Homo sapiens: one gene and its partners. The protein of the gene in region 1 binds, or shares a complex with, the protein of each later gene. Each region holds a gene or a part of one and is shown in the gene's direction. Other genes may lie near its edges. The genes, in order: OGT, RBL2, THAP3 and KRT7.

What was found.
Region 2: the proteins of OGT (region 1) and RBL2 are in contact, whole or in part, in a crystal structure (PDB 4XI9), measured with the Homo sapiens proteins. Residues at the interface, in NP_858058.1 of Homo sapiens: His506 (codon at 483), His508 (codon at 489), His509 (codon at 492), Asn567 (codon at 2,260), His568 (codon at 2,263), Pro569 (codon at 2,266), Tyr642 (codon at 4,744), Thr643 (codon at 4,747), Lys644 (codon at 4,750), Gln849, Phe878, Val905, Ala906; in NP_001310537.1 of Homo sapiens: Thr417, Pro418, Val419, Ser420, Thr421, Ala422.
Region 3: OGT (region 1) and THAP3 share a complex: the UniProt entries of both Homo sapiens proteins name them as parts of the THAP1/THAP3-HCFC1-OGT complex.
Region 4: the proteins of OGT (region 1) and KRT7 are in contact, whole or in part, in a crystal structure (PDB 4XIF), measured with the Homo sapiens proteins. Residues at the interface, in NP_858058.1 of Homo sapiens: His506 (codon at 483), His508 (codon at 489), His509 (codon at 492), Asn567 (codon at 2,260), His568 (codon at 2,263), Pro569 (codon at 2,266), Tyr642 (codon at 4,744), Thr643 (codon at 4,747), Lys644 (codon at 4,750), Gln849, Phe878, Val905, Ala906, Pro907; in NP_005547.3 of Homo sapiens: Val9 (codon at 4,710), Phe10 (codon at 4,713), Thr11 (codon at 4,716), Ser12 (codon at 4,719), Arg13 (codon at 4,722), Ser14 (codon at 4,725), Ala15 (codon at 4,728).

What each region holds. Positions count from the first base shown.
Region 1 is NC_000023.11:71,557,104-71,564,122, forward strand, and holds part of OGT (UDP-N-acetylglucosamine--peptide N-acetylglucosaminyltransferase 110 kDa subunit), read left to right. Parts: coding exon 1-2; intron 3-91; coding exon 92-193; intron 194-389; coding exon 390-569; intron 570-2,163; coding exon 2,164-2,322; intron 2,323-2,484; coding exon 2,485-2,574; intron 2,575-4,671; coding exon 4,672-4,797; intron 4,798-5,743; coding exon 5,744-5,914; intron 5,915-6,026; coding exon 6,027-6,143; intron 6,144-6,225; coding exon 6,226-6,396; intron 6,397-7,019. UniProt on the Homo sapiens protein: Catalyzes the transfer of a single N-acetylglucosamine from UDP-GlcNAc to a serine or threonine residue in cytoplasmic and nuclear proteins resulting in their modification with a beta-linked N-acetylglucosamine (O-GlcNAc).
Region 2 is NC_000016.10:53,437,471-53,444,489, forward strand, and holds part of RBL2 (retinoblastoma-like protein 2), read left to right. Parts: intron 1-1,545; coding exon 1,546-1,676; intron 1,677-5,187; coding exon 5,188-5,388; intron 5,389-7,019. UniProt on the Homo sapiens protein: Key regulator of entry into cell division. Directly involved in heterochromatin formation by maintaining overall chromatin structure and, in particular, that of constitutive heterochromatin by stabilizing histone methylation.
Region 3 is NC_000001.11:6,620,159-6,627,875, forward strand, and holds the start of THAP3 (THAP domain-containing protein 3), read left to right. Parts: upstream 1-4,709; 5' UTR 4,710-4,796; intron 4,797-4,991; 5' UTR 4,992-5,060; coding exon 5,061-5,134; intron 5,135-7,717. Other genes in the region: PHF13 (PHD finger protein 13), read left to right, coding at 1-179, 1,253-1,479. UniProt on the Homo sapiens protein: Component of a THAP1/THAP3-HCFC1-OGT complex that is required for the regulation of the transcriptional activity of RRM1.
Region 4 is NC_000012.12:52,228,612-52,236,250, forward strand, and holds the start of KRT7 (keratin, type II cytoskeletal 7), read left to right. Parts: upstream 1-4,631; 5' UTR 4,632-4,685; coding exon 4,686-5,009; intron 5,010-6,543; coding exon 6,544-6,755; intron 6,756-7,639.

The sequences.
Region 1 (7,019 bases):
AGGTACTACTGTTTATTATAATATGTGCAGTTTAACACCTAAAATTTAACTTTTGGAAATTTTTTACCATCCTGCTTTATTTATTTTCCAGGATTCAGGGAATATTCCAGAAGCCATAGCTTCTTACCGCACGGCTCTGAAACTTAAGCCTGATTTTCCTGATGCTTATTGTAACTTGGCTCATTGCCTGCAGGTAAAGAATAACAGGCCAGTAATTGGCTCTCAGTGTTGTAATAGCTTTTTAATTGTTGTATGCCATAAGAATCCAAGCCTGACTGGAAATAGTATTTTTAATAGGCTATCTGACATTACTTTAGGCCAAAGACATATCAAATATTAAATCCTGGGATAGGACTTTCTGGATAATAACTTGTTTTTGCTTTCTCTAGATTGTCTGTGATTGGACAGACTATGATGAGCGAATGAAGAAGTTGGTCAGTATTGTGGCTGACCAGTTAGAGAAGAATAGGTTGCCTTCTGTGCATCCTCATCATAGTATGCTATATCCTCTTTCTCATGGCTTCAGGAAGGCTATTGCTGAGAGGCACGGCAACCTGTGCTTAGATAAGGTGTGATTCTTTTGTTTTAATCTTTTTGTTGTAAACTAAAACACAAATACAGAAAACTGTAAAAATCAAATCTGTGGCTTAATGAACGATTATAAAGTGAACACCACCCAAGTCGAGAAATAAAACTTTTGTGGGCCACTTCAGAACCCCTTCCATTGTGTCCTGAGTATAACCCCCTGCACTTCATAAGACGGAATCCTTAACTCCTTCACTTAAACACTAATGATAGACTGATGGTACTTTTCTTTAAGTTGAAAGCCATAATTTTTTTTTCTTTTATCTTTTTTTTCTTTTTTTTTTGAGACGGGGTCTTGCTCTGTCGCCCAGGCTGGAGTGCAGCGGTGTGATCATGGCTTACTGCAGCCTTGACCTCCCCGAGCTTAGGTGATCCTCCCACCTCAGCCTCCTGAGTAGCTGGGACTACAGGCGCATGCCACCACACCTAATTTTGTGTTTTTTGTAGAGATGGGGTTTTGCTATGTTGCCCAAGCTGGTCTTGAACCTCTGGGCTCAAGTGATCTGCCCACCTCGCCCGGCCAAAGTGCTGGGATTACGGGTGTGAGCCACCGCGCCTGGCCAGCCATCATGTTTAATGGAGTGCTTGGTATTTTGTATTCACCTTTGAGAATTAGAGCAGTACTTGATCAAGGATTGGATCAAAGGTTGGATAATAGATTGGAGTGCTAGGTGTACTTTTTTTTTTTTTTTGAGACATAGTGTCTCTGTCATCCAGACTGCAGTGCAGTGGTGCCATCTCAGCTCATTGCAACCTCTGTCTCCCAGGTTAAAGTGATGCTCGTGCCTTAGCTTCCCGAGGAGCTAGGATTACAGGCGTGTGCCACCACGCCTGGCTAATTTTTGTATTTTTAGTAGAGATAGGGCTTTGCCATGCTAGGCTGGTCTCGAAATCCTGACCTCAGGTGATCCACCTGCCTCAGCCTCCCAAAGTGCTGGGATTACAGGCATGAGCCACTGCCCCCAGCCATAATTTTGTTTTTAGAAAATGTTTCCCTATAGAATTTTCTAAAATGCGGGAGGAAACCATGCTCTGTCCATACTGCTTCATACCTACAAGTGTTAGATTTGCTCGTACTTTTTTTTTTTTTTTTTTTTTTTTTTGAGACAGGGTCTTGCTCTGTTGCCCAGGCTGGAGTGCAGTGGCACAACCTTGGCTTACTGCAACCTCCACCTCCCAGGTTTGGGCGATTCTCCCACCTCAGCCTCCCAGGTAGCTGGGACTACAAGCATGTGCCACCACGCCCAGCTAATTTTTTTTTTTTTTTTTTTTTTAGTAGAGATTGGATTTCACTGTGTTGGCCAGGCTGGTCTCGAACTCCTGACCTCAAGCGATCCACCTCCTTGGCTTCCCAGAGCGCTGGGATTTGCTCATGCTTTATAGATCTCAGGAGCAGGTCAAAGTATGAAGCATATTACATAAAGTGCTGAGGTTGCATCTCTCTGGCAATATTAACTAAATGCTCTGGGCAGACCTTTTTCAACAGGTGTGAGGTATAGGTTTGGTGTGTTTTTCGTCAGTTTTCCTAGATGAAAATTTATGTAGATTTTACTAACAAGCATTGGATTCTGTTGATAGATTAATGTTCTTCATAAACCACCATATGAACATCCAAAAGACTTGAAGCTCAGTGATGGTCGGCTGCGTGTAGGATATGTGAGTTCCGACTTTGGGAATCATCCTACTTCTCACCTTATGCAGTCTATTCCAGGCATGCACAATCCTGATAAATTTGAGGTAAGACTAGTGTTTCTCTAGAATCACTATTTGTTTAAAAAAGAAAAAACCCACAATGTTGGCTTGTCACCATGAGGCATGGAAACCTAGTGTCTTTTGGAAAGATTTGAGCCAGAAAGATTTGAGCCAATGTTATTAAATATGCCATGTGCTGCCTTTCAGGTGTTCTGTTATGCCCTGAGCCCAGACGATGGCACAAACTTCCGAGTGAAGGTGATGGCAGAAGCCAATCATTTCATTGATCTTTCTCAGGTAGATGAAACTCTCATACTTTAACTTTTTATTTTGAGCAAGTTTAAATAAAACTATTAGCATATAGTTTATTTTTGATGATAAGTATTAAATGCTGTAGTACCACATATAGGCAATTGTGTTGATCTTATTTCCTTGATCATTTGTGTTAATCAGCATGGCTTTTTCCGAGGTTGCAAATGAAACTGAAATGTGTTATGCTTGTGCTTGGACATACAACTTTTCTGGAGATTGAGCCAGCACTTGTGACAGAAGATACTTAATAAATATTGACAAAATGGTGACTTGGGAGAAGAATAAATAGGTCTTTTAAAGAAAATAGGGCCGGGTGTGGTGACTCATGCCTGTAATCCCAGCACTTTGGGAGGTCGAGGCGGGCAGATCATGAGGTCAGGAGATGAGACCATCTTGACTAACATGGTGAAACCCCGTCTCTACTAAAATACAAAAAATTAGCTGGGTGTGGTGGTGCATTCCTGTAATCCCCGCTACTTGGGAGGCTGAGGCAGGGGAATCGCTTGAACCCGGGAGGCGGAGGTTGCAGTAAGCTGAGATCGCACCACTGCACTCCAGCCTGGCAAGAGCAAGACTCTGTCTCAAAAAAAAAAAAAAAAAAAGAAAAAATAGATGAACTATGGTTCATCAGTTTCCATGGGCCTTTGCCTTTGGTTATCTTTATTTCTGTACTTGTTCTATTGTTGTATCCTCTAGGAGAGTAAGTTTTATGATAAATTAAGATTGAAACCTATGGGGGAATTAATTTGCTGAGTATGTAGGCTACAGTGTTTTCTTTGTAGACTCTATTAGCCACTTTGACTAATAGAGATAATATACTCTTTATATGTGTGTGTACACACATGTATGTATGTACATACACATGCAGGTATGATATGTATGCATATATGTATAAATATACATGTGTATGTGTATATATATATGAATCACTGAAGTCCTAGCAGAAAGGTTTTGAGACTTCTCATTTAATAAATAGTATGTACTAACAAATTTTGCAGTATAGCTGTTGCTTCAAAAGTATACCTGGCCATTTTTGATACACAGTTGGACTCTTTGTGACCAAGAAGCATACCTCTTTCTACCTCTGAGACCTTTAGGGACTCACTGCTGATTGATTGCAGTCTAAACTCTTCAGCATAGCTTTTGTAACCTTTCTCTGTTTGCCACAACTTTGTCAATACTTTAACTCACCATTCAACATCTTGTATACCCTATACTAAATAGAAGTGAATTACTCACCCTTTTTTTTTTTGAGATGGAGTTTTGCTCTTGTCGCCCAGGGTGGAATGCAGTGGCACGATCTCGGCTCACTGCAATCTTTGCCTCCCAGGTTCAAGCGATTCTCTTGCCTCAGCCTCCCGAGTAGCTGGGATTACAGGCGCCTGCCACCACACCCGGCTAATTTTTGTATTTTTAGTAGAGACGGGGTCTCACCACATTGGCCAGGCTGGTCTCGAACTCCTGACCTCAGGTGATCCACCTGCCTCGGCCTCCCAAAGGGCTGGGATTACAGATGTGAGCCACCATGCCCGGCCTACTCACCATTTTCTAAACTCCCTCACACTTTACTCTAGTTCTTCATTCATACTGTTCTCTACTGAGATTGTATTCTGTTAAACTCCTTCAAACTCCTATTCGTCTTTGAAGACCTATTTTCAAATACCAATTCTAGGCTGGGTGCTGTGGCTCACGTGTATAATCCTTTGGGAGGCTGAGGTGGAAGGATTGCTTGAGACCATCATGGGCAACATAGTGAGACCCCATCCCTACCAAAAAAAAAAAAAAGATTACAAATTTCAAATACCAATTTCTCTGTGATATGTTGTTATTCATACATTCAATCCAGAAGTGAACTCTCCTTCCTTTGTGTTCTGTTTCTTTAATGCTTTGGGCCCATTTTAATGACAGTCAACCATATTTGTGCCCGAATTAATGTAGTTAATTTGTGTTCTTACCTCTTTTCCATCTGGGAATCTGAATTATGTTAAATGCCATTAAAACTAAATGCCATTAAAACTAAATGTCATTAAAACTAATTGATCTGAGATTATACATAGTGAGTTCTTATTTTGTATTCTGTAGATTCCATGCAATGGAAAAGCAGCTGATCGCATCCATCAGGATGGAATTCATATCCTTGTAAATATGAATGGCTATACTAAGGGCGCTCGAAATGAGCTTTTTGCTCTCAGGCCAGCTCCTATTCAGGTAAACAAATTAACAGTCATCACTTATAACATGTATTTGGCTAAGAATACAGTGAGGTGCTGCTTTTCCTCCCTCTGGTTAACTGATATTTGAAACTGTAGGGCAGACATACTTTTAATTTTTTTAAGTTGTTGAAATGCACAGGACAAAAAGAGTGTAGAGCACAGTGCTTATAGGTACATGTATATAGAGACATGCAATTCATGGTTGGCTATGAACAGTTACTCTGTCTTGCAAATTTGAAGAACATTTTAGCATTTTGAAAGTTAGTCTGAAATACAGGCCGGGTATGGTGGCTCACGCCTGTAATCCCAGCACTTTGGGATGCTTAGGCAGGAGGATCTCTTGAAACCAGGAGTTTGAGTCCTGCCTGGGCAACAAAGCAAAACACCCTATCTCTACAAAAAATTAAAAAATTAGCCAGAGTGGTGGTGTGCCTCTGTGATCCCAGCTATTTGGGAGGCTAAGGTGGAAGGATTGCTTAAGCTTAGGAGTTTGAGGCTGCAGTGAACTATCACTATGCCACTGCACTCCAGCCCAGGTGACAGAGTAAGAGTCTCTCTTATAGAACTGCTTCATTGCTTTCGGCTAAAGAAGTCAGCCTTGCTGTGCGTGTGGCAAGTGCCTGTAATCCTGGCTACTCTGGAGGCTGAGGCAGAAGGATTGCTTGAGCCCAGGAGTTTGAGGCTGTAGTGATCTACGATTGCACCACTGTATTCCAGCCTAGGGAACAGAGTGAGATCCTGTCTCTAAAAAAGAGTTAGACCTCCTTGTTTATTTACTTATTTAATTTTGGCACCTTTAGGTTCTTTTTTTAAAAACCACTTTATTGAGGTACAGTTGACATACAAAAAGTTGTACATATTTAATGTATGTGACTTGATGAATTTAGAGGTAAGTGTACTGATAAAAGTTCTTAATCAGTTTTTGATCTGATTTTTTTAAGGCAATGTGGCTGGGATACCCTGGGACGAGTGGTGCGCTTTTCATGGATTATATTATCACTGATCAGGAAACTTCGCCAGCTGAAGTTGCTGAGCAGTATTCCGAGAAATTGGCTTATATGCCCCACACTTTTTTTATTGGTGATCATGCTAATATGTTCCCTCACCTGAAGGTAGGTATGAAACAGTGCTATGGACGAATTTCAAAGAACTGTAGCTTTTTATTTCCTTGCTATTGTCTATGTAAATCCTAAAAGACATGTCTGAAACTATTTTTTCCATTAGAAAAAAGCAGTCATCGATTTTAAGTCCAATGGGCACATTTATGACAATCGGATAGTTCTGAATGGCATCGACCTCAAAGCATTTCTTGATAGTCTACCAGATGTGAAAATTGTCAAGGTCAGAACCTAGTCAGTATTGTCATTGAAATAAAGTTAACTGCATTCACGATCTTTTCCCTAATGATGCATTTTTTTTTCAGATGAAGTGTCCTGATGGAGGAGACAATGCAGATAGCAGTAACACAGCTCTTAATATGCCTGTTATTCCTATGAATACTATTGCAGAAGCAGTTATTGAAATGATTAACCGAGGACAGATTCAAATAACAATTAATGGATTCAGTATTAGCAATGGACTGGCAACTACTCAGGTGAGAAGATAATAATACACCATTATATGTCCCGCCAAGTATGCATTTATTTCCCTTAACCTCATGATAACTCTAGGAGGCAAGTATCATTATCACCATTTTTATGGATGAGGAAATGAGTTTAGTGGAAACGTGCATCTTATATAGGTGTGTCTGATTTTAAAAGTCTCCTGGATTCAGCCAGCAGATTATTACTTACTGAGAAACTGCTGTGTTAATATCTTGTTATTCCCTGCCTGTGGCTTTACTCTCTTACATGATGAACTATGTGTAGATTCCATACAGTTTCTTGCTTCTGTAAACCCATCCTTTCCCTAGCTAAATCCTACTCAAACGTTCAGTTCAGACAGCTCTTCCAGGAATCCATTTCCGTACTTACCGCTAACGTCTCCATCCCTACTTCATTGGTACCTGTCTTTTATACCTCTGTAATGTTTGGAATATATCATTACATACAGCACAACAGATGATAATTCCCTGTGTTTGTATCCTCTACTGAATTGAATTACTGAGCCCATGTCTTAATCACAGTAATGTAGTATGTACTCAATAAATAATATATTGCATGCTTAAATAAGTAGCTCTATCAAGAGAGTGTAAGGCAAAGATCTCTGACCTCTAGA
Region 2 (7,019 bases), on another chromosome or scaffold:
TTCCTCGCTTTTATAGGGAGAGGAAAGTTGTATCACTTCTTGAGTAAAAAGAATTGTGACGATCTTTTACAAACAATGCCTTAAAAATTATTATTTTTGAATGATATCTGGTAGTGGATCCACAATAGTCTCATTTGGTTATACAAATAAATTTTATGTATTCATGTATGTGTTTTGATTAGGTATAAAATTAGTGGCTGAATATCCATTCAAGCTTAATTTTGTATTTCTATCACTTTTCTAGATTTTGAGCAAGATTAAAAATATAAACAATAGGCCAGGCGCAGGGGCTCACGCCTGTAATCCCAGCACTTTGGGAGGTCTAGGTGGGCGAGTCACGAGGTCAGGAGATCAAGACCATCCTGGCTAACACATTGAAACCCAGTCTCTACTAAAAATACAAAAAATTAGCTGAGCGTGGTGGTGGGCACCTGTAGTCCCAGCTACTCAGGAGGCTGAGGCAGGAGAATGGTGTGAACCTGGGAGGCAGAGCTTGGAGTGAGCCAAGATGGAGCCACTGTACTCCAGCCTGGGTGACACAGTGAGACTCCATCTCAAAAAAAATAAAAAATAAATAAAAATAAACAATAATATTGTTTGCATTACTATGGCTATATAGCAAATTGCCTTAAAACTTAGGGGCAGAAAGCAATTTGTTTTGGTCACAGGTTCTGTGAGTAAGGAATTCAGGCTGGGGACAGTGTGGATGTCATGTTTCTGCGTCAAAATGACTGGTACCTCACCTGGAAGACTTGAGCAACTAGGTACTGGCACAGCTGGAGCTCGTTGGGCATCTCTGTATGTTTGTTCCATGTGGTCTCACCAGCATGGTGATCCAGGGTAGCTAAATTCTTACATGTTGGTTCAGGACTCCGAAGGCACATGTCCTAAGAGAGAGAACCAAGTGGAATCTATACTGCCTTGTATAATCTTTTAGAATTACATAGTTTCACTTCTACCTCTGCAATTATTGATAGAGACAGTTAATCAGTGTGAGGGAACGCAGACCCTTGCCCAGGTCCAAGGTGAGGGAACCCTCTCTACCTCTCAGTGGAATAATGTTAATGTCACATTATAAGAAGAGCCTACGGGGCTGGGTACAGTGGCTCACACCTGTAATCCCAGCACTTTGGAAGGCCAAGGCGGATGGATCACTTGAGGCCAGGAGTTCAAGACCAGCCTGGGCAACATGACAAAACCCTGTCTCTACAAAAAATACAAAAATTAGCCAGGTATGGTGGCGCACTTCTGTAGTCCCAGCTACTTGGGAGGCTGAGGTAGGAGGAGTGCTTGAACCTGGGAGGTGGAGGTTGCAGTGAGCCAAGATTGCGCCACTGCACTCCAGCCTGGGTGACAGAGCAAGATTCCATCTCAAAAAAAAAAAAAAAAAAAAAAAAAAAAAGAGCGTATGAGATAGGGTCATCATTGAAACTAAGTTTCCCACAAAAATATAAACAACACTTTCAATTTAAACATACTTTTAAAAATATTGAAATATTTATATGTAGCTTTTTAACTAAAAATCAATTTTCTTTTCTTTTACAGGGAAATGATCTTCATTGGTTAGCATGTGCCTTATATGTGGCTTGCAGAAAATCTGTTCCAACTGTAAGCAAAGGGACAGTGGAAGGAAACTATGTATCTTTAACTAGAATCCTGAAATGTTCAGAGCAGAGGTAACTATGTTAGAGTTTGACAAGTAGAGTATGGCTAATGTAAGCTCATAAATCATAGTGATAGTAAGAATTATCTCTGTTTATCATTTTCTGAGCATTTGTACCTGTGGACTGGTGAAATTAGATGCTAAAACTAGCATCTAATGATTTTCCTTTCTTTATATCACAGTTAATATCCATTATATTTTACTTCTTTGGTGAAAATATTTAAATTTTAATGTTTTAGGCACTTGTATGGCAGAATTTATTTTTAAAGTTTAGGACATTGTGTAATATTGGGAGAAATGAAGGATATTGAGAAACTTTAGGAGATACTCCAAGTTGAAAAGGTAAATAAAATATTATTTGCTATTATACTTAGAAATATGTGCACAGGACTTGTGGTCTTAATATAAATGGAACATGTAAGTATTTCTCAGTTTCCTGTTTGGAGGATAAATGACATGATTATAATCCATTTTAGAAAGGGTCAAATATGTTTAAAAGAAGAGGCAGAAATTGCTTTATCTGTTGTGTAATTAAATTGATTACATTTATTTTTTGTGCCTTTTAGGTGAATTTTCTTACATGGCTTATTAAAGATAAGTGGAAAAATGATGTTTAGCATTTTGGGGGAAATTACCACTGTCAAAATTTATGGAGTTAATGGTTAAAAAATCACTTACTAAATAAAAAAATTAACTGGGTGTGGTTGTGCATACCTGCAGGCCTAGCTACTTGGGAGGCTGAGATGGGAGGATCACTTGAGCCCTGAATGATGGAGCAGCACTGCACTCCAGCCTGGGCCACAGAGCAAGACCTTGTCTCCAAAAAAAAAAAAAAAAAAAAAAAAGAAGGTTACTATTAAAATAATTAGCAGGCTGGGGGCGGTGGCTCACACCTGTAATCCCAGTAATCCCAGCACTTTTGGAGGCCAAGGTGTGTGGATCACTTGAGGTCAAGAATTGGAGATCAGCCTGGCCAATATGGTGAAACCCCGTCTCAACTAAAAATACAAAAATTAGCCGAGTGTGGTGACATGCGCCTGTAATCTTAGCTACTCAGGAAGCCGAGTCAGGAAAATCACTTGAGCCCAGGAGGCAGAGGTTGCAGTGAGCACTATTGCACTCCAGCCTGGGTGACAAGAGCGAGACTCCATCTCAAAACAAATAAATAAAATAAAATAATTCACAATGTCATGTTTTAGCTGACGTTGTGAATTTTAGTAATCTTTTTTTAACCTTTAACTCCATCCTGAGTTACATTGACCAAAGAATCAGTATCTAGAATTATATCAGGAACTACTAACAGGGTTAATAAAATGAATAAAGAACATGACTTCACAAAGGTTATAATTCACATAGCTAATAGATACAGGAAGAGATATTCACTGTCACTAATAAAGACTTTCAAAGTAGAAAGATAACATTTCATTCTGTTTTTTTTGAGATGGAGTCTTGCTGTTTCACCCAGGCCAGGGTGCAGGGGCGTGATCTCAGCTCATTGCAGCCTCTGCCTCCCAGGTTCAAACGATTCTCCCGCTGTGGCCTCCCAAGTAGCTGGGATTACAGATGCGCACCACCACACCTGGCTAATTTTTTGTATTTTTAGTAGAGACGGGTTTCACCATGTTGGCCAGGCTGGTTTCCAACTCCCGACCTCAGGTGATCCACCCGCCTTGGACTCCCAAAGTGCTGGCATTACAGGTGTGAGCCACCATGCCTGGCCAACATTTTATTCTTATCATTGGGAAAATTTGAAGTCTGGTATACCAAGTTTGGTCACTGTACAGGGAAACAGGAACTCTATTTTTTTTATTTTTCAGTTCTTTTTTTTTTTTTTTTTTTTTTTTGAGATGGAGTCTCACTCTGCTGCCCAGGCTGGAGTGCAGTAGCTCAATCTCTACTCACTGCAACCTCCACTTCCCAGGTTCAGGTGATTCTCATGCTTCAGCCTCCCGGAGTAGCTGGGATAAAGGCACATACCACTATACCTGACTAATTTTTGTATTTTTTGTGGAGACCAGGTTTCACCGTGTTGACCAGGCTAGTCTCGAACTCCTGACCTCAAGTGATCTACCTGCCTCGGTCTCCCAAAGTGCTGGGATTACAGGCATGAGCCACTGCGCTCAGGCAGGAACTCTATATTGCTGGTGTACATTGGTGAGAGTCAAAATTGACACAACTACTTTACTAGCAAATTTGGTGGTATCTAGTAATATTGAAGGTGCACATTCTCTTACTGTACTTCTTGGAGTAGTCCCCAAAGAAACTCCTGCACACATGTATAAGGATGTTTTCATTACAACATGTTTTGTTATCATGGAATATTAGAAACAACCTAAATTTCCATTGGTTGGGGAGTGAATGCAAAAAGTCATTGTATGTTCATATGAAAGAATGTTTTTAGCAATTAAAATGAATATATCTTACATATCAACATTAATGTCAGAAACATTATTGAGTGTGAAAAAGCAAGTTGCAGAATACCACTGAAGTATGATAGCATTTATATAAAATGTAAAAACACGTAATAAGATATTGCTTATTGTTTACACATACATGTGTATGTGTAGTAAGTGTGAAAACATAGGAAGGATTAAGACCAACTTTAGAATGGTTTTTATCTTTGGGGTAGAAGGGTAAGGATGGGATTAGGGAGGAGTATAAAATGGTAATTTTGACTGTTTCTTTTTCTTTTTCTTTTTCTTTTTTGAGACAGAGTCTCGCATTGTCGCCAGGCTGGAGTGCAGTGGCGTGATCTCGGCTCACTGCAACCTCCGCCTCCCAGGTTTAAGTGATTTTCCTGCCTCAGCCTCCTGAGTAGCTGGGATTACAGGTGCCCGCCACCACGCCCAGCTAATTTTTTGTATTTTTAGTAGAGATCGGGTTTTACCATGTTGGCCATGCTGGTTTCAAACTCCTGACCTTGTGAATCTCCCACCTCGGCCTCCCAAAGTGCTGGGATTACAGGTGTGAGCTACTGCGCCTAGCCTTGACTGCTTCTATAGTGTTGCTAGTTTAAAAAAAAATCTGAAGTGGCAGGAGGAGGTGGCTCACACCTGTAATCACAGTGTTCTAGGAAGCCAAAGTAGGAGGATCACTCAAGCCCAGGAGTCTGCAGTGAGCTGTGATCTTGCCACTGAACTCCAACATGGGTGATAGAACGAAACCCTATCTCTTACAAAAACAAAAACGACAAAATTTATTTAATATATTAACATTTAAAAAATCTGGCAGTGAACCAACGTGAATGTTGGTTAGGTTACTCTTGTTAATTTTGGTTTGTATTTTCAAATATTTCATAGTTAACAAATACTTTAGGTAACCTAAACAAAATGGATTAGGAGGATCAGAGGAATATACCAATCTGTAAGAAATTAAGCTAGTCAGAGACATGAGTTGTGATTTTATTTCACTGTCTAAAAGTAATATAATTTAATGCGATAATATTGATTTACTTTTGAATACTTACTTTTGTATACTTTAGCCTTATGTTAATTATGAAATATCTTGTTTGTCTTTAATACCAGCTTAATCGAATTTTTTAATAAGATGAAGAAGTGGGAAGACATGGCAAATCTACCCCCACATTTCAGAGAACGTACTGAGAGATTAGAAAGAAACTTCACTGTTTCTGCTGTAATTTTTAAGAAATATGAACCCATTTTTCAGGACATCTTTAAATACCCTCAAGAGGAGCAACCTCGTCAGCAGCGAGGAAGGAAACAGCGGTAGGTTTTCTTGTTGGTTCATCAGGAATACACGTTAGTCTGTGCTGCAGTGTTGATATTCTGCTAGGTTTTTTTTTTCTGGTTTTAAAAAAGAAATAAGATTTAAAAAATCTTTTTCCTCAGTCGTTTTCTTTTAATGATGCTTTTTTTGCTTTTCATTGTGGGTTAGCCATGAAGAGTGGCTTTTTTCATATTGCTAAATGTATACAGGTCTTTGTTTCTATAAACTTTCATTTGTCTTATTTTATTTTATTATTATTTTTTCCTCAGTGATCCTTGTTCTGAAACCTTCCTTTTTCATTTAAGCAACAAAAAATGCAGACTGTACAAGTCAGACTTAGGGATTTTCACCCTTTCGCCGCCTTGGAGATGTATCTGTATCTGTATCTGGATATATATATTTTTTATTGCGCAGGGGCCATGCTAATCAATGTATTGTTCCAATTTTAGTATATGTGCTGCCGAAGGGAGCACTGCCCTAGATATAGATCACTATATTAACCACTATATTTTCTACTAGTGATTATATAGACTATTTTATGTCAAACTGAGTAATAAATAATCCCCTTGAAATGACTTCTCTATGTATTTTGATGTTTATAATGAATTCAGAATAGAGAGACTGGATTGGGAAAAGACAGGAGAACTGAAACTATTATGAATTTGTGCTTTCTGATCACTTCTGCAAAGTCTATAAGCATGCTCTGACTCAGTGTTTTCTACCTTTCCTGATAGATAAAGGCAGTTATGGAATACACATTTTCCTTCTTTATCATTGAAAGTTTTTTCATAAAGTAGAAATGAAAATTCTAACAATTAGAAAAATGTTGACAAGAAAAGTAAAGGGAAAGGAGTTAAAATTATTTGGCTAGAATAAATAATGTTTGCTTCTCTTTAAATATAAAAGTTTTCCCAGACTGTGAAGGATGTTTACATTAAGTGTAACCTTTTAAAAATAAAATGGGGGAATGACAAACCAGGAGGAAAAAAAATTTAAAAAAACTAGAACTATTTACATTTTAATATAGATGGCACCACTGATACAGAAGCATCTGGTCTAGCTCACTTACAGTTTTGGGGAATTGACTATTTAAAATGAAGCATTCTGAGCCAGGCGGGTTGGCTCACGCCTGTAATCCCAGCACTTTAGGAGGCTGAGGCAGGCGAATCACCTGAGTTCAGGAGTTCAAGACCAGCCTGGCCAACGTGGCAAAACCCCGTCTCTACTAAAAATACAAAAATTAGCTGTGCGTGGTGGTGCATGCCTATAATCCCAGCTACTCGGGAGGCTGAGTCAGTAGAATCCCTTGAACCGAGAGGCAGAAGTTGTGAGCCAAGATCGTACCATTGCATTCGAGCCTGGGCGACAAGAATGAAACTCCATCTCATAAATAAATAAGTAAACAAATAAAAGGAGGTATTCTGGCTGAGTGCCTGTAATCCCAGCACTTTGGGAGGCCAAGGCGGGTGGATCACTCTAGGTCGGGAGTTCGAGACCAGCCTGGCCAACGTGGCGAAACCCCGTCTCTACTAAAAATAAAAAAATTAGCGGGGTGTGGTGGTGGGTGCCTGTAATCCCAGCTACTTGGGAGGGAGAGGTGGAAGAATCACTTGAACCTCAGAGTTGGAGG
Region 3 (7,717 bases), on another chromosome or scaffold:
CCCCTGCTCGGGCTGGGACTCCGATACTCCCTCGAGTGGATCTTGTGCCACTGTGTCACCTGATCAGGTCAAAGAAATAAAAACTGAAGGCAAACGGACTATCGTCCGGCAGGGAAAGCAGGTGGTGTTCCGAGATGAGGACAGCACTGGCAATGATGAGGACATCATGGTGGACTCAGGTGAGTGGTCCCTGAAGGATGATGACCCTTGTTGGCTTGTGGTTAGAAGAGAGGTTATTTTATTAAGTGGTCATCTCTCTGGGGCACAGGGTCTGGTGCCTTCCGTAGAGTGTGACAGCCCCACTGTCCAAGGAGGAGAAAAGCTGCAGGAATGTGGATATCGAGATGTTTAGGAAGGGGTTGATTGCCACTAGAGACAGCTGAGATTCTAAGACCTTAGAACATAAAAAGGGTATAGTTCTAAGTAAGCATCCAGGTAAGCATCCAGGCCGGGCACGGTGGCTCCACCAGTAATCCCGGCACTTTGGGAGGCCAAGGCAGGTGGATTGCTTGAGCTCAGGAGTTGGAGACCAGCCTGGGCAGCATGGCAAAGCCCTGTCACTGCAAAAATACAAAAAAAGGCTGGGCGCAGTGGCTCATGCCTGTAATCCCAGCACTTTGGGAGGCCGAGGCAGGCAGATCACGAGGTCAGGAGTTCGAGACCAGCCTGACCAACATGGTGAAACCCCGACTCTACTAAAGATACAAAAAAAAAAAAGAAAAAATTAGCTGGGCGTGGTGGTGCGCGCCTGCAATTCCAGCTACTCAGGAGGCTGAGGTAGGAGAATTACTTAAACCCAGGAGGTGGAGGTTGCAGTGAGCCAAGATCGCGCCATTGCACTCCAGCCTGGGCGACAGCAAAACTCCGTCTCAAGAAAAAAAAAAAAAACAATAGTCGAGTGTGGTGGTGTGTGCCTGTAGTCCCAGCTATTTGGGAGGCTGAGGTGGGAGGATGGCTTGACTGCAGGAGTTTGAGGCTGCAGTGAGGTATGATTGCACCACTGCACTCCAGCCAGGGTGACAGAGTGAGACCCTGTCTTAGGGAAAAAAAAAAAAAAGTAAGCATCTCCTGGGTAATACCTGGTTCCCACACATTTTGGAGCCCCTCGTGCCTTTTCAGAGAGAAGTGTCAGCTTCGAGTGGCAGTTGGAAGTGTTCTCGTCAGTAGAGTTAATGGGTTTCATGGAAGCCCAGCTGATGGCGAGGAATGATGGGAATTTCTCTTCCCTCCTTGAGAGTATCTTTCCTTCCAGATGACGATTCCTGGGACCTCGTGACCTGCTTCTGCATGAAGCCATTTGCCGGCCGCCCCATGATCGAGTGTAATGAGTGCCACACCTGGATTCACCTGTCCTGTGCGAAAATCCGGAAATCCAATGTTCCAGAAGTGTTTGTCTGCCAAAAGTGCCGGGACTCCAAGTTTGACATCCGCCGTTCCAACCGCTCGCGGACGGGCTCCCGGAAGCTGTTCCTGGACTGACTGCTGGCTGGCGAGGAGGCTGCGAGCGTGGAATCGGAAGCGACCGCGGGCTTTTTTGCCCTTCTCTTAGTTGAGCACAGAACCCTCAGCTCTGGTGCGGGCAGATCCCTGCCATTTAGGTGCCTAAGCAAAAGGACAGGCTGTCCAAGGTAGAAACTGTACATAGCCGGTGACCGAATGCGACCTTTGCCAGCCAGAGCTGCTGCCAGAGCTGCGTTCCCTGCAGTGGAGGTGGACTGGACACCCACGTGCAGCGGGTTTGGCTCATTTGAAAATGAGGGTCCGTGGTAGCTGTGCGTTTTGCTATCATTGCTAAGAGATTCCCGCTGATTGGGCTCAGTGCCAGCTGTTATTCTGCTTCCACTGTGTTGGGGAGAGGTGTTCGGTTTCCCCAGCCTGTTAATGAACAGCCATACGTGTAAGCTTTTTCTTGAGTGTTAAGTCTTTTACCAAAAGTGTCTGTACAGCAGCCATCCAAGTTGCCCCTACTTAGTGGCTTGCCCTCTGCCTGCCTCAGCTGCTGCCTGACCGGCTGGGGGAGGCACTGGCGGGAGGCCTCGGGCTCCCCTGGAAGGGCGCTGGGCTGGCGGGTCAGCTGGTGGTTCTTAGGTTTCCTTCTGTTTGTTAAAAGGGACAATGTGGCCACTTCTCTGTGGAAAGGGAGTTGGTTGGGGGGTTGAGATGGCCCGTGTTCATAACTCAGTTTCCTGTTTTGCACGATGTAAAAACCCTGTCTTTTTGCACGATACAGCCAAAAGTATTGGCTGATTTCTTGCTGAGTGCCCTCTTAGTTGGTGTGTGAGGTCTTGGTGGGCTCAGGCCAGCTGTTTGCGAGTGTGGGAACTCATAGGTTCTGTCTTTGTCTCTTCCTTTCACCTCATTCTGGTAGCAGCATAAAGGTTAGGCAATCACTGGGACCCGCATGGTGTTCCTCCAAAGAATAGGGTAAAGGAGAGCTGGGAGGGAGCCCTCTCCGTTGGGTGACTCTTGTGTGCCCTTTAGACAGGCTGGCCTGCCGGTTCCACAGGGTACAGTTAGGACTTGAGTCTTTCTTTTTCTGTTTTGAGTTGGTGAGTGAGTGATAGGGTAACATGGGCCTTCAGGATGACCCCTTGGAACTGTGCCGAGTTCCTTAAATCTCAGCTGGGATCCTGGACCTGGGAGGCCCCTGTGAGGGCCAGCTCTGGAAAAACCTGGGAGTTGATGCCGGAGGCTGTGGAAGAACTCTGCTCGAGGGCAGGGTGCCCTGGAACACTGGTAGTTCTGGGGCTGGGAGGGAGAGGGGCTCCGGCTTTCTCTGAAATGAACACTGCTCTTCAGCAGTTCAAGTACTTGTTCTCAAAACATTTTCTAATTGATTGGTAGGTTTTCATAAGCATTGTTTCTTTAAGGCATGGAAAGGGAAGAATGCTCAAGCAAGTCATGTTTGTTTTCAGTGGGATGGGCCCGCGTTCTCACTGCTGGGGGCTTCCCCTTCATGTGGCACCTTTGTGCCAGGCCACCAGGCAGACTCTTCCCACCTTCTCCCACTGAAGCACCAAGGGGCTTGAACCGTAATTTGGCTAATCAGAGGCATTTTTTTTGTCCTAGTATCTTTCACACTTGTCCAACCGTCTTATTTTTTTAAAAGTTCTGTTGCTTGTATTAACACGAAACTAGAGAGAAATAGTTTCTGAAGCCAGTTTATTGTGAAGATCCCCAAGGGGGAGGTTCGGTAGAGAAAAATAGTAAGCTGGTTTAGAAACTGACGAGGGCAAACAGCCAGGACGCATTGGAGAGGAATTTGCCAAAGATCTACCCTGAGATAACGCCTGTCCAGTGTCTTCACCACGTGAATAACCAGCGCTCCAAAGTGTTTTTCTGCTTTGAAAAAAAAAAATTCCACAAGCTTTTAAAGGTGCATTTAAGAATCCATGTGACTTTAGAATGGAACTGCCGGCCCTGGCAACTGTCACGTGTGCTAGAAGGTTCGATGCCTCTGGAATGCATGTGATACTCATCTCCATTTTGTTTCCTTGATTGCATTTTTGTTCTTTTAGCAGATCTGTCCCTGTGGGTGGTGTCTAAGAAGTCGGACACCTTGGTTTTTGTGTTAGATTGAGCTGGGCAGCTGCAATCAGCTTCTTTATATGCAAATTAGGCACGACCCATCTGTGGTTCCTGGTTGGTGGCTAATGAAGTGAGGGGAGGGAGGGATGTCACCCCAAAAGTAGGCCCTCCCATTGGCTTTGGCCAGGCCAGACACTTCACATCGTTTACATGGTTCTGTGTAATTTTAAAGTTTATGTGTATAAAGCGAAGCTGTTTCTGTGAAACTGTATATTTTGTAAATAAATATATTGCTACTTTGAGGTTCATGATTCAAGGTTCAGGCGATTGCGTTCTGTGCTGAAGGACAATTGTGTTTCTTTTCTCCTTGCTACCTCCCCAAAGCATGATTACATCAAGTCTCTGGGAAGGCAGCGTCTCAGTGTGCACTTAGCAGGATGGAAAATGCCCACGGTGTTAAGGTACCTTGCTGGTGAATTCCTTAGAAACAAACCACAGGACGAGTAGATGTGAATGGTTTTTGCAGTTTCTTCATCAGATTGAGGATTAGCTCAAGCCCCAGTGAGTGGTTAGCCTACTTTTGATTTTTTTTTTGTTTTTGAGACTTGAGTTTCGTTCTTGTCACCTAGGCTGTGAAGTGCTGTGATGAGATTTTGGCTCATTGTAACTTCCACCTCCCGGGTTCAAGAGATTCTCCTGCTTCAGCCTTCCGAGTAGCTGGAATTACAGGTGCCCGCCACCATGTGCGGCTAATTTTTGTATTTTTAGTAGAGATGGGGTTTCACCATGTCGGTCAGGCTGGCCTTGAACTCCTGATCTCAGGTGATCCGCCTGCCTCGGCCTCCCAAAGTGCTGGGATTACAGGCGTGAGCCACTGCGCCTGGCCGATTTTTTTTTTTTTCTTCTTACAAGATGACGCCTTCCCTATAGGCTGCTTTGAGAAAGCTGCAGCCTCGGAGTTTCTGCAAGGCCTGAACTGGAATCTCCCTCCCCTTCAGTTGCCCTTTTTGCCTCTTCACGTTTGGGGGTTCCCTGTGACCAAACTTAAGGGCAGTGAGCTGTCTGGCCTCTGAACTGACACCACCAGTGGCCAACTAGTACCACCTCCAGTGACGTCAGAGGAGTCCAGACCTATTCACAATTCAAAGCCCTAAAAACACTGAGGGGTTGGCCGTTGGTTTCCAGTTGTCCAAGCCTGTGAGTGGCTATGCGTCCTGGTTGGGTGCTCAAAGCAAGGAGGTGAAAGGCGACCAGCATTGGCGAATGGGGTAAGACTTGCACAGGCCCAAGGCTAGGAGTTGGGGTTTCGGGCCTGAATTGGGGCCCGGAGCACCCCTTTACGTGGCGCCCCGGGTCCCGTCCGACCCTGGGGAGACGCGGGTGGCTGGGATGGCAGGATGAGCGCGCCCTGGAGGCGAGCCAGGCCCGTCACCACCTCCCAGCGGCCCCGCCCCTCCCCGCAGGTCCCTCCCCTCTCCGCAGGCCCCGCCGCCGCCGCCATCTTTGTTGGGGGCAGCCAGGCCTGGCTCGAGATGCCGAAGTCGTGCGCGGCCCGGCAGTGCTGCAACCGCTACAGCAGCCGCAGGAAGCAGCTCACCTTCCACCGGTAAGAGGCGGGGACCCGGGGGCGCGGGAGGCCCAGACCCGGGGCCCGCGGACCGACTCCGAGGCCTTGGCGCGCCGGGCGGGAGGCCCAAAGGCGTGCGGCCGCTGGGCCCGGGGACAGGCCGAGGTCCTGGGCCCAGAGGGGCTGGCGCCGCCGCGCCCGCCGCGGGGATGCGGGGAGTGGCGGACGGAGGGGCAGCGGCGCACCTGGCGGGGCCAGGGCCGGGACGTGCAGGGAGCGGAGCAGGTGTTTGCTGAACAGACTAGCGGGCCGCGGCCGGGGTTTGCTGTGTCCCTGGTCGCTGCAGCCCCCGCCGCGCGCGGTCCTGAAGGGAGCCCGGCACCTGGGCAGTGCAGTGGAGGAGTGGAACCCCCAGGGGCGTCCTGGCAGTGGGAAGGGACTCTGCAGGGTCGCGGGAGGACGCTGGAGACTTTGGAGTCTGCTCCAGCACTCGCCCGGCCCGGCCCGGCCCGGCCCAGGAGCAATCGTCATTAGTCACAGTTGCGCTTTCTCCAAGGTCCAGTCACGGCACCATTTCTCTACCCACTTTTGGGCACATTCCGAAGGGGGGCTTGTGCTCATCGTTCCCATTCCCTCTGCTCCCATTGTTCTGTTTTGTGATAAATGCTTTGCTTGAAGTATACGTAATGTACATGCAGAAAAATGCACGAATCATAAGTATACAGCCCAGCGAGTTTTCCCCAAGTGAACGTCACTGAACTGAAACGTTACCAGCTGGGCGCGGTGGCTCAAGCCTGTCATCCCAGCACTTTGGGAGGCCGAGGCGGGAGGATCGCTTGAGCCTGGGAGTTCGAGACCTGCCTGGGCAACAGAAGGAGACCCTACCTCTACAAATAATTTAAAAAAATTAGCCAGGCAAGGTGGTGTGCCCCTGTAGTCCCAGCTGCTCGGGAGACTGAAGTAGGAGGATCGCTTGAACCCAGCTTCGAGGCTGCAGTGAGCTATAATCTTGCCACTGCACTCCAGCCTGGGTGACAGAGCGATACCTCATCTCAAAATAAGAAATAAAACATCACTACCCCCGAGAAGAACCCCTACCTGGACCCCCTCCCAGGCCCTCCTCCTCTCTCCTGCCCAAAGGGAACCCTATCCTGCCCGCTATCAGAGTGGATTGCAGTTCATTCGCTTTCGTTGCCACATAATATTCCATTGAATGCAAGTGCCAGAATTTACTGATTTGTTCTACAATTGAAGGGCATTTGGGTGGCCCCATTTTTTGGATGACAAATACATGGTTCTGGAGGCTGGGCGTGGTGGCTCACGCCTGTAATCCCAGCACTTTGGGAGGCCGAGCTGGGTGGATCACCTGAGGTCAGGAGTTGGAGACCAGCCTGACCAACATGGTGAAACCCCGTCTCTACTTCTCTACTACAAATACAAAAATTACCCGGGCGTGGTAGCGCGCACCTGAAATCCCAGCTACTCAGGAGGCTAAGGCAGGAGAATCACTTGACCCTGGGAGGCAGAGCTTGCAGTGAACCGAGATCGCACCACTACACTCCATCTTGGGCAACAGAGCGAGACTCCGTCTCAAAAAACAAAACAAAACAAACATTGTTTTGGCCAGTTTTGGTGGGACTTGTGTTGCAGTGCATCTATCTGTTTTGCCTCTGTCAGGTATGTACTTGGGGATGGAGTTGCTGCGCCTTCTCTCTTGAAGTCGTTTCCTCCACTCCCACGAGAGCTCTGTCACATCACTAGTGAGCCTTGTGACACTGATCGATTGCATAGCATTTCACACAACTGACCCCTGAGCCTGGGTCACTTTTCCCGCATGGCGTCTGGTACACTTCTTGGCCACAGGTGTCTCTTCTCAGTCTCCTTTGCTGGATCCTCCTTATTTCCAGCACTAAGTGTTGGAGCCCTGGGGTGTGGGCCATGGCCCAGGGGTGGCTTCTAGCCACACTTGCTCCCCAGGGGCCCATCTCACCCAGGCTTATCGGTTCCGCAGGGTTGGCCGCCACACTGACATCTCCAGATGCGTGTGGCCGCCTGTCACCCCAGCACATGGAGAGCCTAAAAAGCACCTCAAATTTAACTCCTGACATAAAAAACAAACTTCTTTTTTTGGAGACAGACTCTCACTCTGTTGCCCAGGTGGAGTGCAGTGGCGCAGTCTCGGCTCACTGCAGCCTCTGCCTCCCTGGTTCAGGTGATTCTTGTGCCTCAGCCTCCCAAGTAGCTGGGATCACAGGAGTGCGCCACCACGCTGGGCTAATTTTTGCATCTTTAGTAGAGATGGGGTTTCACCATGTTGGCCAGGCTGGTCTTGAACTCCTGAGTTGAGGCAGTCTGTCTGCCTTGGCCTCCCAAAGTGCTGGGATTACAGGCGTGAGCCACCATGCTCAGCTGCTACAAAACAAACTTCTGATCCCCTTAACCTGCCGTCCTGTAACTTAATTTTATCTCCAACATGAAACTCCTTCCTTCTCAATTTTACCATCTACAGGCAAACCTTACTGCATGGCTTTCAAAATACATCCAAGTCTGCCCTCTCATTACCACTTCCTGCCAATGCCTGGTCCCACAGCAGCCAGGGTGGACCCAGGTTCCATCTCACCT
Region 4 (7,639 bases), on another chromosome or scaffold:
CAATAAAGATGGCTATCTGTGTACTTACAAGTTCTTATTTGTTAGGGAAGGGAGATGTTCTGGCATGCACTATAGGGAATTTTTAATCCTCATCTTTAGAAAACCGGACTCTGTGATGGGATTTAGAAGACACCAGGTTGAAAGCCACCAATGGAGCAGCATGGTGAGAAGGTCTCTGGCCTAGAAATTAAGGTGCCTCAGTTTAGTTGTGTCTCTGCCATTTTTGTGAGCCATGTGTCTTTGCGTAACTCATTTAATCCCTCTGAGACTAATTTTCCCACTCCAGGAAAACTGTGTTGCTACACATAGTCAGCACTCTTAAAATCTCTTGAAATGTCTGTTGAATAAATAATGAACAAACAAATGAGTAAAGTGACTTGTCTAAGGTCGCCCTCAGTGTGAGCTGTGCCTGAGCCCACAGGTGTCCGGATGCAGCCTGATACTCCATCCAGGTTAGCACACCTCCCCCACTCACTCACCGGTCTCAGCACTCTGCACACCTCATGGAGACTCTGCTCCAGGTTCTTCACAGAGCACAGCACCAAGGTGCAGACCAGCATGTCCACAGAGCCATCGGCCACCTGGTGCGTGTTCTCCCTGGCAGCTACCACAAAGCGCTCAAACTGCAGGTGTTGGTTCTCTGCAATGCTTTTGATCAAAAACTTCTCAAAGTTGGGGTTGGGGTCAATACAGGTCACCCTGCACCCAGGTGGCTAGTACTTGAAGTTGGCCCCCATGCCACAGCCCACCTCCAGCAGGGAGAGCTTCTTGGAGGGGCCCACAAACTCCTGCAGGTTGCCAAAGAGCTCCTGCTTCTTGCTTGCCATCTGTTCTTTGTACATCACAGTGAACCTCACCAAGAAGTAGGGGAACCATTTTTGCACATCCAGTTCTACAAGCCCATAAAGTTCAGCAGGTACATGGGAAATGCTAGGATGTCAATGGCCAGCAACGAGGAGGCCCAGGAGACACTGCTGACCAAAGGCAGAGAGAAGTGCCCAGTGGCAAAGGGGATACCGCTCAGATGGGGATTGCATTGGTGGTCACACCCGACCCCAAGGATGTGGCTTTCTCCAGTAATGCTTTGCAGGCTAGAGCTCGAGGAGAGGAGTCTGAGGTTTAGGCTGAATAGGGCTGGAGATTTATCCACGTGGGGACTGAAGAGTCAGGGGTCAGAGGGTGAGAGTAATGGTCAGGGAGCCTGAGCTGGAAAGAAAGGTGAAAGGAGGGTGGTGGGTGGGGAGAAAACGGAACAGCCAAGTTCAGGACTGGGGGTGCTGGTGTAGCTGAGGAATCCACCAATGACAGTGAGAGTTATTATCAATGGTCCTGCAGTTTAGGATCTAGAATGTGACCTCAGGTGTAGGCAAGAGAAAAAGGATGCAGTGAAAGAATTGAGGAGCTCAAGGAACTCAAAGGGTAAGATGCTGGGTGGGTCATTTGCACTGAGAATGAGGGAGCCCGGGGTGGAGAGGAAGCAGGACCCAGGTGCCAGAGTCCACAGTGAGCATGAAGGGAGTCAGGTCAGTAGGTGGCTGTGGGGCCAGTAGGGATCAGCCTCAGGGGAGAGAGGCAGGAGTGGTGCAGCTGGATCACAGGAGCCCACAGGATTTTTAGAATCACAGTGATCTGTGCAATCAATATATAAAGGTTAAAAACTCAATCAGTATATAAAGGATTTTCTTTTCAACCAATAGCATTCCAGTGAATGGTCAATTCACTGGATTAAATGAATTGGTCAATTCCTTTAATCACTTCCCTATTGACAGGCATTTAGGATGTTTCTATTTTTTCACAAATATACCACATTCCAATTCGAATTCCAAGATAATGAAAAAATTAATATTTTTTTTCTTTATGAGTCAGAGGACGTGTTTTTAGGGGATAGACAATGAGTAATAGTTCTCTAAGTGCAGCAAGGAGCCAAACAGAATGCCTCCTCTCTGGGAAAGGAGCAGCAGGGGCCACTGGGGCAGAGGTGTCTAGGGCAGGTTTAGCAGAGCCAGGCAATGTGGAGGACCTGGGGCTGCTTTGAGTTCATAGCTCAGTTCTAGAGCATGAGGTGGGACAGCTAGGAGGGTGGTGGGAAGACAGTGGGGGTGTGCTTGGCTGTGTGTGTGTGACAGAGTGCTACGGAGACAGGAGCCTGCATTTGGGGCAGGCAGATGACCAATGGGGAAAGACTGTGGGAATAACTCGCCTCATGATTCTGCCCAGGATTTCCTAAGGTGGTCTTGGTGAGGCCAACAAAGTCCGGGTGGGGTGGAGACAGAGGCTGGATGGATGGGTGAGCTGTGAACTCTTGTGGGCAGGAATCTTATCTGCAGCCTCTCAGGTTGGCAGCGCTTTGGGAAGCCCTCCAGAGGATGTTTGCGTGTGCCACCTGGCACAGAGTGGGCTCTTAGTGCTGGCCTGTGAATGGAGAGGCAGGAGGAGACTGGCCAGGGCTGGAACGGCCTGGAATGCTTCAGAGAGGGGAGGAGAGGCCAAGGGGTGAATGTCAGGCAGGCCCTGGAATGCAGAAATGTTGCTCAAAGTGGCCCCCACCCACAACCCCAGATGTGAGCCTGAAAAGCCCAGAGACCTTTTCTCCTTCCCATTGTCCTCCCCAGTCCTCTCTAGGTATGGAATCTGGAGATTTCATCTTGGGTGAAAAATCCATGGCCCAGGGAGGGGCAGTGACATGTCCAGGGCCTCAAGGCAACAGCAGTGCCCTGACAAAGATTTCCCAGCCAGGCTTTAGGGGAGAAGTGGATGCAGGAACTCCTGGTCTAGGTGGGCACAGCCTCCAGAGCGCAGATCCTGTAGGGGGCTGGAGATGGGGACGGATGAGAGGGCCAGAGGCAGAACTTGTTAGTGGAGGTATGGGAGAGCAGGCGTTGGTGTGAGAGGCAGTGGTAAAAACAGAGTTGAAGATGAGCCCTGAGGGGTGAGGAAGTTGGAGTGTGTGTGTGTGTAAATTAAACAATTGGTCTTTTTTGCCTGCTTGGGCGTTGGGGAAGGAGGGCAGTGAGATTCCTATGAATGCAAATATCACAGGACCAGGTAATCCGTATGCTCTTCAAGCTACAACCAGGCACAATTCCAGGTCGAATCTCTCTCGGTCTTATGCACACATACATGCTCCACAGCCGATACCACAGCAGGTCTCCTTGGGCACCCCTCCGCCTCTGGCCTGAGCTGACCCAACACCAATGGCTAGGGTCAGGAGGGGAGGCAGGGAGGGAGGCTGGTGAGCCTTCACTAAGATCACTGAGAAGGAGTGACAGTCTTTAGCCTCACTGGAAGTCCTTGTGCTTTAACTGAAATGGCCAAGCAGGAAGGACATTCCGTCCCCACCCTTGTCTCCCCCAAGGGCTTAGGTCTGAGGTAACGAACCTGGCCAGCTTATTGGGAGGGGCTAGAGGTGGGCTAAGGGCAGACGGAAGCCAGGCCTGAGAACAGGGTGTGGCAAGCATGGCTGGCCCTACCGGGAAGTGAGGCCAACACTCAGGCTTTGTCCGGTATTCGGTTCCAGCACTAGGATTACCCCTCTTGACTGGGTTTGAAACTGCTGGGAATTGTTTGGTGGTGGCTTCACGGGAGAAAGATGATGAAAGCTGAGGGCCTTTAAACAGGAAAATGGTGGAGGGAGCGGGAGGAGAGTTGAGTGCTAACAGAAGCACACGCACTCAGGCAGGCATGAAAATGTGTGCCATTGTGTAGCCACAGCTGCCCCCTCGCCCAGGATGCACGCACAGACCCCCATCTGTGTAAGCAGGCTCAGACATGCGGGTGCATATGCCTGGGGGTGTGAGCACAGCAGAGCCCAGAGGCCTGCAGGCGTGTGCACACATCCACAAAGTGTCCACACATCCACAAAGTGTCACAAATACACACAAGTGTCCCCTTCCTGTACAGGGACGCATAAAATAAATGGGCAGGAATATGAGTGGAGGGTCCGGGAGGTGAGGGTCCAGGGTAAGCATTCCCAAGGTCCCTGGGATTCCGATGCCTACTGGAGTGGGGAGGGGAGGAGCCAGAGGTGCGGTCGGTCGTGTGTCTCTCTCAGCCTAGTTTCTATGGGAAATGAAGTAGGAAGGAACGCAGCCAGGGAAACTAGCTGGGCCAGGAGGGGTCAGACCCCTGAACAAGTGAGCTGATCTCTCAAGGAGGAGCTGGATCGGTGTGAGGGAGAGCGGTAAGGAATGCCTTTCTGGCTTCAGCAGCCTGGAGGATGGGGACGTCTGGGCGTTGACTCCTGGGTTGGAACTTTTCAGCCCACCCCTTCCCCCAGTCTCTTGCCACTGGGTCTCTCTGCTTGGGCCTCAGGGATCTCTAGGTTCTTCACTCCCTCTCCAAGCATCCTCCTCCGGGAAGCCTTCCCTCACTGAGTCCGTTTCCAATGGGCTGGAACTGCGGTCCCCCGCTGTTCTCTGCGGCCGTCTAGGGATGGCGCTCCTGCCTACTCCGGACCATCCCTGCTTGGACTGAAAGCCTGGGCTTCGGCGGGGCGGGCGGGCAGAGGGCGGAGGGCGGCCCCAGGAGGGGCCTGGCAGCAGAGAAAGGTGGCCCGCGGCAGCCCCGCCCCTACCTGTGGAAGCCCAGCCGCCCGCTCCCGCGGATAAAAGGCGCGGAGTGTCCCCGAGGTCAGCGAGTGCGCGCTCCTCCTCGCCCGCCGCTAGGTCCATCCCGGCCCAGCCACCATGTCCATCCACTTCAGCTCCCCGGTATTCACCTCGCGCTCAGCCGCCTTCTCGGGCCGCGGCGCCCAGGTGCGCCTGAGCTCCGCTCGCCCCGGCGGCCTTGGCAGCAGCAGCCTCTACGGCCTCGGCGCCTCACGGCCGCGCGTGGCCGTGCGCTCTGCCTATGGGGGCCCGGTGGGCGCCGGCATCCGCGAGGTCACCATTAACCAGAGCCTGCTGGCCCCGCTGCGGCTGGACGCCGACCCCTCCCTCCAGCGGGTGCGCCAGGAGGAGAGCGAGCAGATCAAGACCCTCAACAACAAGTTTGCCTCCTTCATCGACAAGGTGAGCGGGACTGGACCTCGCCTCTCCTCGAGCCGCGCTCCAGACCACACCAGCCGCCCTAACTAGCCCTGCCTGCGCGCGGGCCAGGCGCTGGGGAGCACTGCCGCCCTTCTGTCTTTCCGCCAGTGTTGGGGACACGATCTGGGGGTCCTTCCTCCTTCGCATGAACCCCGTGGCTATTTTATCCCCTCGGTTTCCAAGCCCTCCCTTCCAGCAAGCTGCCCAGCTGCCCCTCCCTTTCCTCCCGGAGTGCGGGCCTGAGTCCTGTAGGGCTGCCCTCGCTGGCTGCCTGTTGGTCACCTGGACCAGTTTTGCCTCGGACTAGGAGTTCCAGAGGCCTAGGCCAGGAGTTCTCTCTCTGGGACCCTTTCCCTGAGAGAGGACCGTGTGGAGTCAGGAATGGAGTTGGATGGCACGCCCTTCCCAGAGGGGGAGACCCAGGCTCTCTCAGATGCTGATGCGGATGCAGATGCTGGAGATTAGAGCGGCAGTCGGTGGGGCGGGGGAGGGGGGGGGGCTCCCGCCCCTCCCCTCCCCCACCTGCCTGGTCCTCCAGCCTCCCTTAGGTGGCAGGAGGAGAGGTTATACCTGCCCTTGAAGACAGCCCAGTTGGGGGCAGGGAGTGGCAGAGAGGGCCCTCAAAAAGGGGTCCATTTTGGAGATATTTTTCCTGGCTGTTGGCCTCCGCCACACATGGGGCCGCTGGAGGGGGCGAGGGCAGACTTGACTGGTGGGTTTGGGAGGAGTGCTGCCAAAGCCAGGAACTCAGGGCTGGCCCTGCTGGGCTGTTCTGGCCAGGGCCCCCTTCCTCAGCTTAGACGAAGTGTACTCCCACACCCGCCTCCCTCACGTTCTCCTTTCCTTCGCCATTCACCCAGACCGGTCTTTTAGATTTCATAGGGGCCTCCCCAAGCTGCTCCAGGCCCAGGTTCCCCCATGTGTTGAGCTGCACCGTCTTACTCTCTGTGGTCCCCAGGGCCTGGGGCCCTGAGCTGCTGGTTTTGCAGAGGCCTCTATTGCCTCCCACCTCCAGTCATACCGGCTACTCCTTAAGGGCCTTTGTGGGCTCCAGGCTGGGGTCATTTTACCATGGATTGACTGTCCTGAGGCCTTGCTGGAGAAAGGGGAAGGAGAGAAAGGATATTGAGGAAGGAAGAGAAGAGGTCCCAGACAGAAGGGAGGGCTGGGCCTGGTCATCCTCATGATCCATTGACAGGAAGAGGTGGCTGTTCAGATAGGGAGGTGGAGAACACCACCTGTAATGTGATGGGGAGTGAAGTGGAGAGGAGGCCCTGGAGCACATTCGTCGAGAGTCAACCACGGGGCACTTCCGTGCACCAGGCAGACCTGCTTCCTGGATCACTCTGTAGGACACTTGATTTGGAGTCCAAAGGGAGAGGGCTGGAAGCCCCAGGCAGGGAAACAGCCAGGGGGAGCATGGCTCTGCTAAGTGGCTAAAGATGATGTTCCTCAATCCCGCTGTGGGTGGCACGCTCTGGCTCCTCTTGAGTTTCCTCCTTCTCGCCCGTTCTAGGTGCGGTTTCTGGAGCAGCAGAACAAGCTGCTGGAGACCAAGTGGACGCTGCTGCAGGAGCAGAAGTCGGCCAAGAGCAGCCGCCTCCCAGACATCTTTGAGGCCCAGATTGCTGGCCTTCGGGGTCAGCTTGAGGCACTGCAGGTGGATGGGGGCCGCCTGGAGGCGGAGCTGCGGAGCATGCAGGATGTGGTGGAGGACTTCAAGAATAAGTAATGCCCCCTGTGCCACATGCGAAGACCCCTGCCCCGGGCCAATGTGACCCTCATGAGCTGACCCTGTGCAAGTCCCCCTGCTTCAGGAATCAGCATGCAGCTGCTCAGTCCAATAACTCCCTGAGGGGCCAGTCTTGACCAACACATTTCCTGCCTTTCCTCTCTCCTCTTTGTCCCTGGGGGCTGTTTCCAAATCATTCTGGTCTTTTCCCCTGACTCAGTCCCAGTGAAATGTCTCAGCCCAGCCCTGACCTGCACTGTCTCCTTTGGGTGTCTGACCAAGGCCCCGAGAGAGAGTAGGGCAGAAAGTGTCTTCTGACAGGGGTGCTTCAGAACTGGTATGACCTTCACAGATTATTCTAGAGCAACTCTCTTTTGTTCAGGTGAGGAATTAGAGACCAGAGAAGTTTAGGGACTTGGTTGAGCTCACACTGCAAAGGTCACTGGGAGAGCTGGGACTTGAATTTTAGGTCCCTGACTCCTAGGAGAGGACACAGAGCCAACTTGGGAAGCAAAGAAGCAGAGAGGGAAAATGGTCATTGTGAGCCATGCGAGGGCCGCAGAGGCTGAGGGTGGGTCTGGTCATGGCAGGAGCCAGAAGGAGGCTCAGGAAGGCTGGGACTGGGGCTTTTGAGGACAGGTCTTTTTGCACTCTTTTCTCATTGAATAGAAACAAAAGCCTGAAGCTCAGGCTGGGCCCCACCCTGGCACACCTGAGGGGCACTGGGGCAGTGAGTGAGTTCTGTCCCCTGCCTGTGGCTGTGTGACTAAGCAGGAGTCACACATTGGCTCTGACTGGAGGAGAGCAAACAAGGTCTCTGTGGAGTGCCCCCCCCCAACACTCCCACTTCCCTAGGGCAAAAGTCAACAGGATTAGTCCC